2 separate regions of the Homo sapiens genome follow, and region 2 is linked to region 1. The links come from fine-mapping of genetic effects on gene expression. A gene starts in region 1. The other region holds a variant in brackets. All regions are shown on one strand. Distances are between the middles of the regions.

The links. PIP is the estimated chance that this variant, and not a neighbour inherited with it, causes the effect.
Region 2: its variant is the best candidate, but not a certain one, in a credible set for the expression of CROT in whole blood (TOPMed, PIP 0.77).

What each region holds. Positions count from the first base shown.
Region 1 is chr7:87,342,697-87,348,081 of GRCh38, forward strand. It overlaps CROT (carnitine O-octanoyltransferase), which reads left to right and starts at 2,968. Exons shown (of 18, transcript NM_021151.4): 1 at 2,968-3,071; 2 at 3,644-3,734. It overlaps TP53TG1 (TP53 target 1), which reads right to left and starts at 2,796. Exons shown (of 3, transcript NR_015381.1): 1 at 2,347-2,796. RefSeq lists a silencer at 2,784-2,993.
Region 2 is chr7:87,179,936-87,185,320 of GRCh38, forward strand. It overlaps DMTF1 (cyclin D binding myb like transcription factor 1), which reads left to right. Exons shown (of 18, transcript NM_001142327.2): 9 at 1,374-1,406; 10 at 2,293-2,402; 11 at 4,462-4,690. Among named protein-coding and RNA genes, the nearest start is that of DMTF1-AS1, 30 kb to the left of the region's middle. The variant CT/C (reference allele first, on the strand shown) is at 2,578.

The sequences.
Region 1 (5,385 bases):
TAAATAGACAAAAGGTAGAAACAACCCAAATGTCCATGAACTGATGAATGGACAAACAAAAAGTGGTTCATACATTCATCAGTCAGTTGATGAATCATGTTTAATGCCTGTTGGTAACACAGAATTTAGAGCCACTTTGCTTCACTCTTTTCCCAGTCTTGTTATTTATTTCAATGGAAACAAAATGTTCCTGTAAAGATGCCTGGATTTTTGGATATAGAAAAAGTTGTGGGACTGAAAAAAATGAGTGGAACAGAGATTTGAGTATGTAGAAAATAATCTTTTTAAATATTTGAACCAAATGTTCTAAAATTAGCTTATGGTGACTGCATAACCCTGTGAATATAGTAAAACCATTGATTTGTGGACTTTAAATGGCCGAACTTTATGGTATGTAAATTATATTTCAACAAAGATGTTAACAAAATTTTTAAATGTTATATTTTGTTTAGTAAGAAGGTATTTTTTTCTGAGATGCAAAAACATCATAGTTATCTTAACTCTTCCCCTCAGATTTTGGTGGCAACTTTTCATGTACTGTAAATATCATCAAAAGCAACCCCAAATCAATGATTAGTACTAAAAAGAGACCTTTTGTATCAAACACTGTTCATCTGCTGTTGGCAGTGGAGTTCATTTTTAATGCTACATTGCCCTCTTTGCGTCCAGTGTACTTTAATTTGCTGTTGGCTGCTTCCCAAAATGACCATATTTCTACTGCCCCCCCATTAAAAAGAAGAAACATCACAAAATTATTTCTTCAACATGTTCATTTTATACATCAGAATGAAAGGAGGTTACAGGTCTCCCATAGATTAGGGCTATTTACCATATCTCCTTACTTATTAGAGTCACAAATCTTAGCAGGAAGCCAGTTATGCAGATTGAAACATGAACTTCTTAGTCTAGCATTTTAATACTTTTTAATGGTGAAATTTATCTAGACTTATCTATAAAGTCTTTTGCAATTTGTGGTATGCTGAGTAAGAACTACAGAAGAACAAAAATAAAAGATTTTTTTAATGGCAACTTAAAAAATTATCACCACTTGTACTACTTACAAATTTTCCTCCAAAAAGTTACTTTGACTCATAGTCAATTTTTAATCTTGGAACAACTTCTTGCTATCACAAATACTTCAAGTGCCTAAAACATCTTCCTTACCAGCCAATATCTCCCGCTCCACTCTAAGAAATGCAAACTCGTTCAAGTTTAACCTGAATGCAACATAATTTGGAATCTTTCATTAAAATATATATCACACATTTTGAAGCCAAACATATTTTAAAATACCTGTTTTTGGTGATTTGGGGTACATATGCTTATCAGTATAACATATTTTAAAAGATTTTTTTCTACATACTCAAATCTGTGTTCCATTCATTTTTTCACTCCCACACCTTTTTGTCTATCCGATAATTCAGGAATCTTTACAGAAACATCTTGTTTCCATTGAAATAAACAACAAGAGTAGGAAAAAGAGTGAAGCGAAATGGTTCTAAATTCTATGCACCAACAGGCATTAAACATGCATAAACTTTTAAAGAGATGCCAAGACTCACTAAAAAGGAGAAAAAAAATACAACGAAGGTTTCTGAGTAGTTTTTAGTTACTCAATTTAAAAACTTTATCTTGTAAGCAAACTTTAACATCATCCAGAGCATCGCACTTATATATGAAAGAAAAAGTTCTTTATCACACCTTCAGAAATTACAACTACAAATTCCTAATCCCTTATTTAAAATCTTTTTGGCTAGATATGTTTCAAAATTCAGAACTTTTCTTAGAATAGTACGTCTGCCATATATTATGAAACACTTCCAGCAAGCTGTACTGTAATCAAACACAATATTTCTGTAGAAAACTTATGAATATTTACACAAAGGGAACATTCAGTTACACATAGCCTCACTTCCCTTCAGGTCAAACTTTACTGCTAAAGGAGTTAGAAACGACAGACAAAGGAATGGGGCCTGTCATGACATGTTAATTTGAAATCTAAATCTTTATCTTTGATAACTAGTTCAGAGTCAGTGTAAACATTTGGTCTTTCCTTCCACAAAAAAATGAAACAGTGTATTTAAAATTAAAAATGAAACAGTATATTTTATTTCAGAAGGTAAAAGCAAAATGAATTAATCTGTGAAACTAAGTCAATCACATTATGATCTTCTAGAACTTGGGTAGCTCCACTCTGGTTAAAGATTCCATTTCTTGGCACAACAGTAAAAGACATCAGATAGGCCCGGGGGTAAGCATCCCTGGGGTATTCAAATAACTTGGGTAGCAATGAAGAGCTGCAGAAGAGCAAGGAGACCCGAGATGATGTAGTGTGCTGCGGCATACCTGAGTTGGGCAAACTCAGCCTCCGAAGATTAAAGGAAAGAGCCCAAGTAGGAATCTGTGTGATCACTGTTCTTTTGCCAAGACACGGGGTGGACAATAAGATTCCTTTACAAAGCACTGGTGTAAGTGTTCGCCTGGTGCTGCAAAAAGCGGCTCACTGGGAATGGGGAGGAGCGTGTGGTAAGCCAGACCTGCGGCGAGAAGTTGGGTGAAAATGGGTCTTAACCATCGCTTCCTGCATCTATCCCAGAGGGTTGGGTACCTTCGTGGGCGGAGCGCGGCCTGCCCAGAGTGCCTTCTAGATCCTGGGTCAGGCGCCAAGCTCCCCAGCATCATGCAGGAAGCTGCAGCCCCGCAGAGTTAGGACAGCTCATTTGGCACCCGGCGAGCCCTTCCCAGGCCCGCAGCCCAGAATAGAGCCGGGGCCCAAGACGCCCACTGGAGACAGGGTCGGGTCCCACTACCGCGCAGGCCCGGCTCGCCCCCGACGTCAGGCACGGGGCGGGACCCTTGCAGCTGTCCGTCCAGTCCCGTTCCCCGGAAAGTGAGGGGCGGGACCCTCGCGGCTTTCTATCCAATCCTGTTCCCCGGCGAATGCGGGGCGGGACCCTAGCGGCCTTCAGTCCAATTCCCGCACCTTTGAGGCCCAAGGGGGAGCGAGCCGGTGCTGCTGCAGGCTGAGGCTGCGGCAGAGGCGGCGAGGCGCGGGCGGTGAGGACGGACAGGTCCGTTGAAGCAGCATTCCCTCCCTCCCCTAATCCTTCAACTCGGGGGCGGGGGAAAGTTAAGTCGTGCAGAACCGCAAAGGTGCCTGGATTTGGTGGGGGAGTAGTGTCATCAAGCATCTCGCCTGCTGGGGTCTCAGGGGTACCCTCAAGGTTGGGCCGCGGGGCTGCTCCGTTGTAGTGCTTAGATTTCTCTCACTTGATGGCCTCTTGAGTGCAGAGTTGCTCTTGGGTTGGTGGGAAGAGCCTCCGAGCTCTCATTGCCCTCTGCTCCTGCTTCTACCCCTTGCCACTCTGCGACGAACCTGTTACCCAGCCACTGAAAACGTATCCTCTACCCTTTGAACCCGTCTAATGGAAGGTGTACTTGTCTGAAACCTACTTAATTGTATGATCATTTACTCCTGCTCTCTAGCAGGTGGACTATTTGCGTGTGTTTGCAGTGATTCACGAAAAGTTTGTCTTGGGAACTCCCAACTCCTAGTTTGTCTGCATTCCACCTTCTTTCACTAGCTTGTTCATTTCTTTTTCCCTCTTAAATATTTGTTAAGCTTGTTTCTTTCTTCCCACAGTCACCGACTTAGTCCAGTTCCCTGTGATCTCAAAACAATTGTTGCAGCAGGCTCCTGGCAGTCTCAAGCAGTTCATCTTCTTGGTGTACTGGTATGTGACAATTCCTTCACGTATTGTTCGTGGTTCTTTTCCACTTTCTGTGAATTCATATCTAATTGCCCCCAGAAAGTCAATTCTAATTAAATCTAGCATAATCATTTTCTTAGTGCTATTGGAACCATCTTATTTAACTTAATCTTTGTGGTTGAGAATTCAAGAAAACTCTTCAAGAAAGAATCCAATAATTTATATTTTTAATGTGTACCGGTTGGTGGGTTAAGCACTATAGTGGGTATGTAACTAATACTCTTGCTTCCAGTTTTCTAGAGTCTATTAAGTGGCACAGAGGTAAACAGAATAGCTTATCTTCTCTGTATGTGTGTACTAGTCTTCTATTGCTGCCTTAACCAATTACACAAATGCAACAATTAAAACAACACAAATGTATTATCTCATAGCTTCTGTAAATGTGAAGTTTGGGTGGGCTTAGCTGAGTACTTGGCTTAGAATTTCACAAAACCGAAACCAAGGTTTCTGTAGATTTGGATTCTTTTCTGGAGGCTCTAGGGGAGAATCCACCTCCAGGCTATTTCAGATTGTTGGTAGAATTCACACTGACATTTCTATATCCTTACTGTTTGTCAGCCTGAGCCTCTTTCAGTTCTTTAAGGCCATCTGCATCTTCAAAGACACCACAAATCCTTCTCAAGCATTAAAGCAGTCTTACTTGTCTGCCACTGGCCAGAGAAAGCTCTTTGCTCTTATGGACTCAAGTGATTAGATTAGTTCCAATTCGATAATATCCCTATTTTAAGGTCAGTTCTGTAGAGAATATCACAATCACAGGAGTAATGATCTCACCATATTCGCAGGTTCTGGGGATTAGCAGGGGTGGAATCTTGGGGGCCATTCATAGTAATTGTGCCTACCACAATATGGTGGTTTCAGGCAGGATTATTTTGTTTTTATAATGTGCTTTCACAGGCATTGAAAACAAATTCTGACTTTATTGAATTGTATGATTAACCACTCTAAGATAAGGAAATTCACTTAAAGTTGGTTGCCCTAGGGGCACATGGCTAGAAAGTGGCAGAGTCTGTACTTGGATCCAGATCTACATTTCCATTAGGTACAAACCCATTTTTATGGATGGTCAAAATGGTGTGCAGCCAAAGTCAATAGATAGAAAGAAGCTAAAGAACTTTGAGTTAATTATTATTTCTCATTTTCAAATTATCTCTTTATATTAGTGGTACAGGCTAAGCTCTTCTCCCTACAATAGAAAGCCCAAAATACAATGGTATGAATAAAATAGAAGTTTTTTTTTTTCCATACATCTAGAGGTAGGAGTCCAGGACTAGTAGGGAGATTCTGCAATCCTGCATATATGACTTCCATAAATGAGGCCATGGTGCTGTTTAGTTCGTCACTACCTAGCAGGTAGTAAAAAGGAGGGAAAGTGCAGGGAGAACACATGCATTCCTTTTTGGGAGCATGACCTGGAAGTGACACACACAAGGTCATCACAAAGCCACACTGAGCTCCAAGAGAGGGTAGGAAAGATAAAACTGGGGGCTGTATGCACAGCTACAACTCAGGATTCTGTTAAAGCAGAGGAAAACAGGTATTAGCTGAAAATAGTCTCTTCTGTGTCCATGTTTTTGATAGTGTTCGATTCTGTAACCTATGAGTGGAATACTTT
Region 2 (5,385 bases), 160 kb before region 1:
TCAAAGTCTGCTTTGTAGTAAAGTAACATAAAAAATACAGTAATGATTAAAGATTTAAGAAGTGTGAAAATAACTTGAAATTTATTGGTAACATTTTTCCTATTTATTTTTAGAATATAGCATTCCTAGGTCAGTGGCCTTTTTTTAAATCCAGAATGGAAAAGAACTACATTTCTGAAAACAATGTATGGATTTCTGTTTTAGATAGCATTTATGGGAAGGCATCATTAAGATTCTTCAAATGCAATGATTATATACTGTTACTGACATATTTTTAATTTCTCTTTGGAAATTTTAGGTGGCAGTAGTATGGCTTATTAGATACTGCCGAGCTAATGTTGGAGCTCTTTCTCTAGCTCTTCAGCAGCCTGCTAATGAAAGTACATTTGAAAGCTGAAGAGGATTAAATTATGTTTTTGTGACAGTGGAAAAAGAGAAAAAATTTTAAATGGAGCATAAATGACTTGTTAGCAATTCATAAACTTTCCATGCATTACAAATGGTTACAAAGTGAGCAGCGTTTCATAATTATTAAATGGACATTTTTAAAAAGAACATTACATAGGCTGTATTGAGTACTTGCCTACTGTAATAAAGAGCAAGAGTATGTCAGATGTCCATACCTGGGTAAAGGAAATGAAGATAATCTTAATTTGTTCAGTGCTTTGAGGGAATTTTCTGTAGATTTTCTTTTTAGCTCTAGTTTACAATGTCACCCATAAGTTTTTTTGGAGTAGTTATGATTTGAGAGTGCCAAAATCTAAGTTTGAAATAAAGGAACTGTTAGACAGCATAGGAGCAAATGTATGTTTTAAATGTTGATTCTTTTTCTAGAGAAAATTATACAATCCTTACCTTTATTATAACTAAAAAATATTTACTGTTTAAAAAAAAATAAAAATAGAAGCATTTATTTTCAACTTTTTTTTTTTTTTTTTTTTTGAGACAGAGTCTGTGTTGCGCAGGCTGGAGTACAGTGGCATGATCTTGGCTCACTGCAACCTCTGCCTCGTGAGTTCAAGCTATTCTCCTGCCTCAGCCACTCTAGTAGCTGGGATTACAGGCGCCTGCCACCAGCTAATTTTTCTGTTTTTGGTAGAGATGGGGTTTTGCCATGTTGGCCAGGCTGGTCTCGAACTCCTTGCCTCAAGTGATCCGCCTGCCTTGGCCTCCCAAAGTGCTGGGATTATAGGCGTGAGCCGCACCCTGCCTATTCTCAACTTTTATTAATCCACTTTAAAATGGGTTACTTTAAAAGTATTATATGCTAAGTGACTTAACATTCAGCTCCCTAAATGAAATTCTGATTTTTATTGAGGTTTTTAGCATTCATTGTTTTAATTGATTTTTTAAAAATTTCTCTGAATTTCTAGATATACACCTGAAGAAATTGAGAAGCTCAAGGAGTAAGTTTTAAAGTTTTTTTCATTAATTCTAATTTTTTATGTCTTACGTCCTTAAAAGTTTTACTTTGAAAATTTCAAGAGGTTTTTGGCAGACTGGTATAATTGAATTGTGCTATTAAGCATGATTGGCCTTAAAAAGATCACATCAAATCCATTACTTGCACAAAATAACCATTCTCATAATGTATAATCTGGTCTCCTGATGCCATTCACCAGATGCTTCCTCAGACCACTAATAGGGGTTCCAGAAAAGATTAAGGGGCCATTTTTGGTAGCCTGAAGACTAAATTTGGGGAATTTATATACCAGGATGAAAACCAGGGTTGTGCTACATGGCTTGGTTTAGAATGGTGACTTGGCAAATGTTTCAGTGAATATCTGGGCTGACTCAACCTTGCAAAGGCTATTGAATCTCAGGAAGTAGAATTTTGCTTTATTGAGTTAGACCTTAAAGTATGGTTTAATGAATTGTATGGATCATGAAAAAATTTGAAGGTAGATTCTGTTTATAATGATAAAGACCTGTGAAACTTTAGATGTCTAAAGAAGAGTTTGTTGGGTATATGCTCAAAAGGGAAAGTCTGGGGCTTGCCTGGGAGATTGTGTCAGTAACCTGAGGGGAAATTGGTCTTTTTTGAACACATATCCAAGTTACTTATTTCTTCTCTGACCCAGGAAAAAGGCAATTGCTGCCTGTTTTTTTTTCACCCACAGACAACTGTGGACCCCAAAAAAAGGCCACACTTTCAAACTTTGGCTCTCAAAGTATTGCTGCCCACAACTTCCAAACCAGTCAAATGGGAAGAAGAAGAATGAAGAATAAATGATGAAATTAAAAGGGAGAAAACAATTGAACCAAATGCTGATTGGCAGACTCTTGTTTTAGGCTCCGGATAAAGCATGGCAATGACTGGGCAACAATAGGGGCGGCGCTAGGAAGAAGTGCATCTTCTGTCAAAGATCGGTGCCGACTGATGAAGGATACTTGCAACACAGGTACTGTGACTACTACTGGTAGCGTTTTCTTGTCACCACTTAAGCCTCCTGCCCCTTAGGATACTGCCTTTTCTTTGCTCTTGGGGAGCGATTTAGATCATTCACCTTAGTTCAGACTTTATTTTCTAGTCTTCCTTTTCCTTGAGCTTATTAGATATATCAAACTAATCTTTTA[CT/C]TTGTTTTTGTATAAGGTAACATTGTCTTCAGGGACACAACATCACCTTAGTGTCAAGATGATTCAGATCTAACATGTTTCAGTTTTGTAACAATTTCAATACTTCCCCAGTTGAGAAAGTATTTTGAAGACATACATGCAGCAAGTAATTTTAATTTAGGCCCATCTAACTGTTGAATTTACATTAGCAACAGCTAATCAGTGAGTGTTTATGAAAAACTTTAGTCACAGGTAAGTCCCAAATTAGGAAGAAGCTGTGTTCCAAAGATTTGTAAATATTTTGCTTATTTTAAACTCAAAGTATATTTTTCCATAGAAAAAATTTATGATTGGTGTTTCAGTCCCCTGGCAAGACCACAAATGCCTCTTAATGCATGCAGATGTCCTGATCATACTGTTAAACCTAATCTTTGCGACCAACAACGTATTTAGGCTCTGCTATTAACTGTCATTTAACCTTTCTGAGCCTCACTTCCTTCTGTAAAGTAAAGAGATTAGAGTAGGTGGTCTCATAGTGCCCTTTTAGCCATAATGTTCTCTGAAGGATCCACAATCCATGCCCACTGTTGCAATTAAAAAAAAAATTTCTGAAGTTTAGCTTTAGCTTCCAGGGCATATACATTTTGACCTTAACCCCCTGCTCTAAAAATGAAATCAGAATTCTTTCCTGCTTAACTACTGCACTATCACTGTTACCTGCAGGGCAGTGAGAACATAACTTCTACCAACTTTGTCATTCTGTGACATGGCCAGCTTAATGAAAGAAGCAGGGCTGTAAGCTTTAGATTTAGGATAGGATCTCAGAGTTTCATGTAAGATGCTGTGAGTACAGAACCCCTTTTGGTAACAAAATTTGGAAGGACACAGTGGCATTTCCTGATTGCCAACCTGAGGGATTGATTGATCTGCCTGCTTCCTTCTCATGTTGTGACATACAGCTGCTGATGAGGCCATGCCATGAAACAGCACAGTCTCAAAGTAGTCCCATCCTTTCACAGCATGCTAGAATAGGAGAGTAGAACTTTGTCTTGAATCCATCCACAGTATTCATAATTGTGCTTGGCATATAATGAAAATTCAATAAACATTTGCTAGATGAATGGAATCCCAAAGCAAGCACAGTCTTTTTGAAATTTTCTAGAGGTTTTCAGCTAGTAATAACAAAATGGAAACAGAGGTAAAGAAGATGAAAAAAAATGGCTTTTTTCCCTTTCTGTTTTTCTGCTCTAGCTCCATAAGAAAAAGACAGAGAGGAACATTTGGGGTTATCTATTAGTGGGTTTATGGGTTGAGAAAACACAGGAATAAAAGTAAATACTTGTATCAGACTTTACTAATATTTCATCACAGTAGCTTGGAGTTGGGATAGTGAGGAAACAAGATGGTAGAAACCTAGTTTTTACTAAAATAGGTTGAGCCCATTGGTGTAATTTCCCTTGTCCCTCATCATTCATTCCTATAAGTAATGGCCTCTTGAACTTACTTTTGCAGAGCAGGGAATCTTAGGTGACAGTAAGAAAAAAAGCATGCCATTTCTTGTCTGTCAGCCATTGACGAAGCTCTTCCCACTTCACTGTTTATAAAGGACTTAGTGTAACTTGAGAATACATTCTTCTTTGTAGTTATGTTTTGGGTGGTTTTTCTTTTCATAATTGGTCAGTGCTTTCCATTAGGATTCTTTATTTTCTTTTCTACTGAGACCCTTACTGGGCTAGTAAAATGAAACTGTCTTAGTGGGTATATATGGTTTTCCACCAGAGGGTCATTCAGAAACAAACTCTTAGTACTATTGCTTACTTCCTATCAGTCCTTGTAAATAGAGGGCTGAATCAGATTTGTAAAAGAAGTTAGCAGTGGTAGTCTGGATGATTTCCTTTTTTCAGGGAAGTGGACAGAAGAAGAAGAAAAGAGACTTGCAGAAGTGGTTCATGAGTTGACAAGCACTGAGCCAGGTGACATAGTCACACAGGGTGTGTCTTGGGCAGCTGTGGCTGAACGAGTCGGTACCCGCTCAGAAAAGCAATGTCGTTCTAAATGGCTCAACTACCTGAATTGGAAACAGAGTGGGGGTACTGAATGGACCAAGGAAGATGAAATCAATCTCATCCTCAGGTTTGTGTCCTGAATCTTGTAATGACAAAAGCAACTTAATTTCTGTGGATGTCTTGATAGACTTTCCTCTTTTGGTTTTCCTGGATGCCTAGTGTCTGAAAAGTATCCTTTCCATAGAGCACTACTGTTTAAGATCTTAAGTATTTCATATTGAGCTCTTTTTTTGTGTTGTGTTTGTTCCTTTTTTTTTTTAGTGGGTTTAGTGCTCATGCAAAGTACCAGATTGAAGGCGTGGAGACTGAAGTCCTCTCTATATCCACAGAACAGGTATGGCACAGGCAGCGGCAGTGTAGCTTTTCCACTGTCCCACCAATGTGCCTCAGTCCTAGCCTAGGGGGAACACGTTTAGGATAAGAGGGCTGTTCAGTCTCCATGCCCTTCAATCCTTGGCTACTGTGCTAAGATTGCCAAGAAGGGGGCCCAGTCTGTAGTTACCTCCACACCTCCAAAGTAGACCAAATCAAACACATCCATTTCATACAAATTCAAAAAAGCTTTAAGATATCATAATCCCAGCTTATTTTTTTAAGTAGCTGGTTTAACCATTAAGATTTATTAACTAAAATGGGCAAAAATACTAGCAAGAAATTATTTAAGACCCTGAAGTAATAGAGACTGTCACCATGGCTACTCCCTACCGAAAATCAAATTGTCACAACAAAGCTAGAAAACGAACAGATTTTTTTAAACCTCAA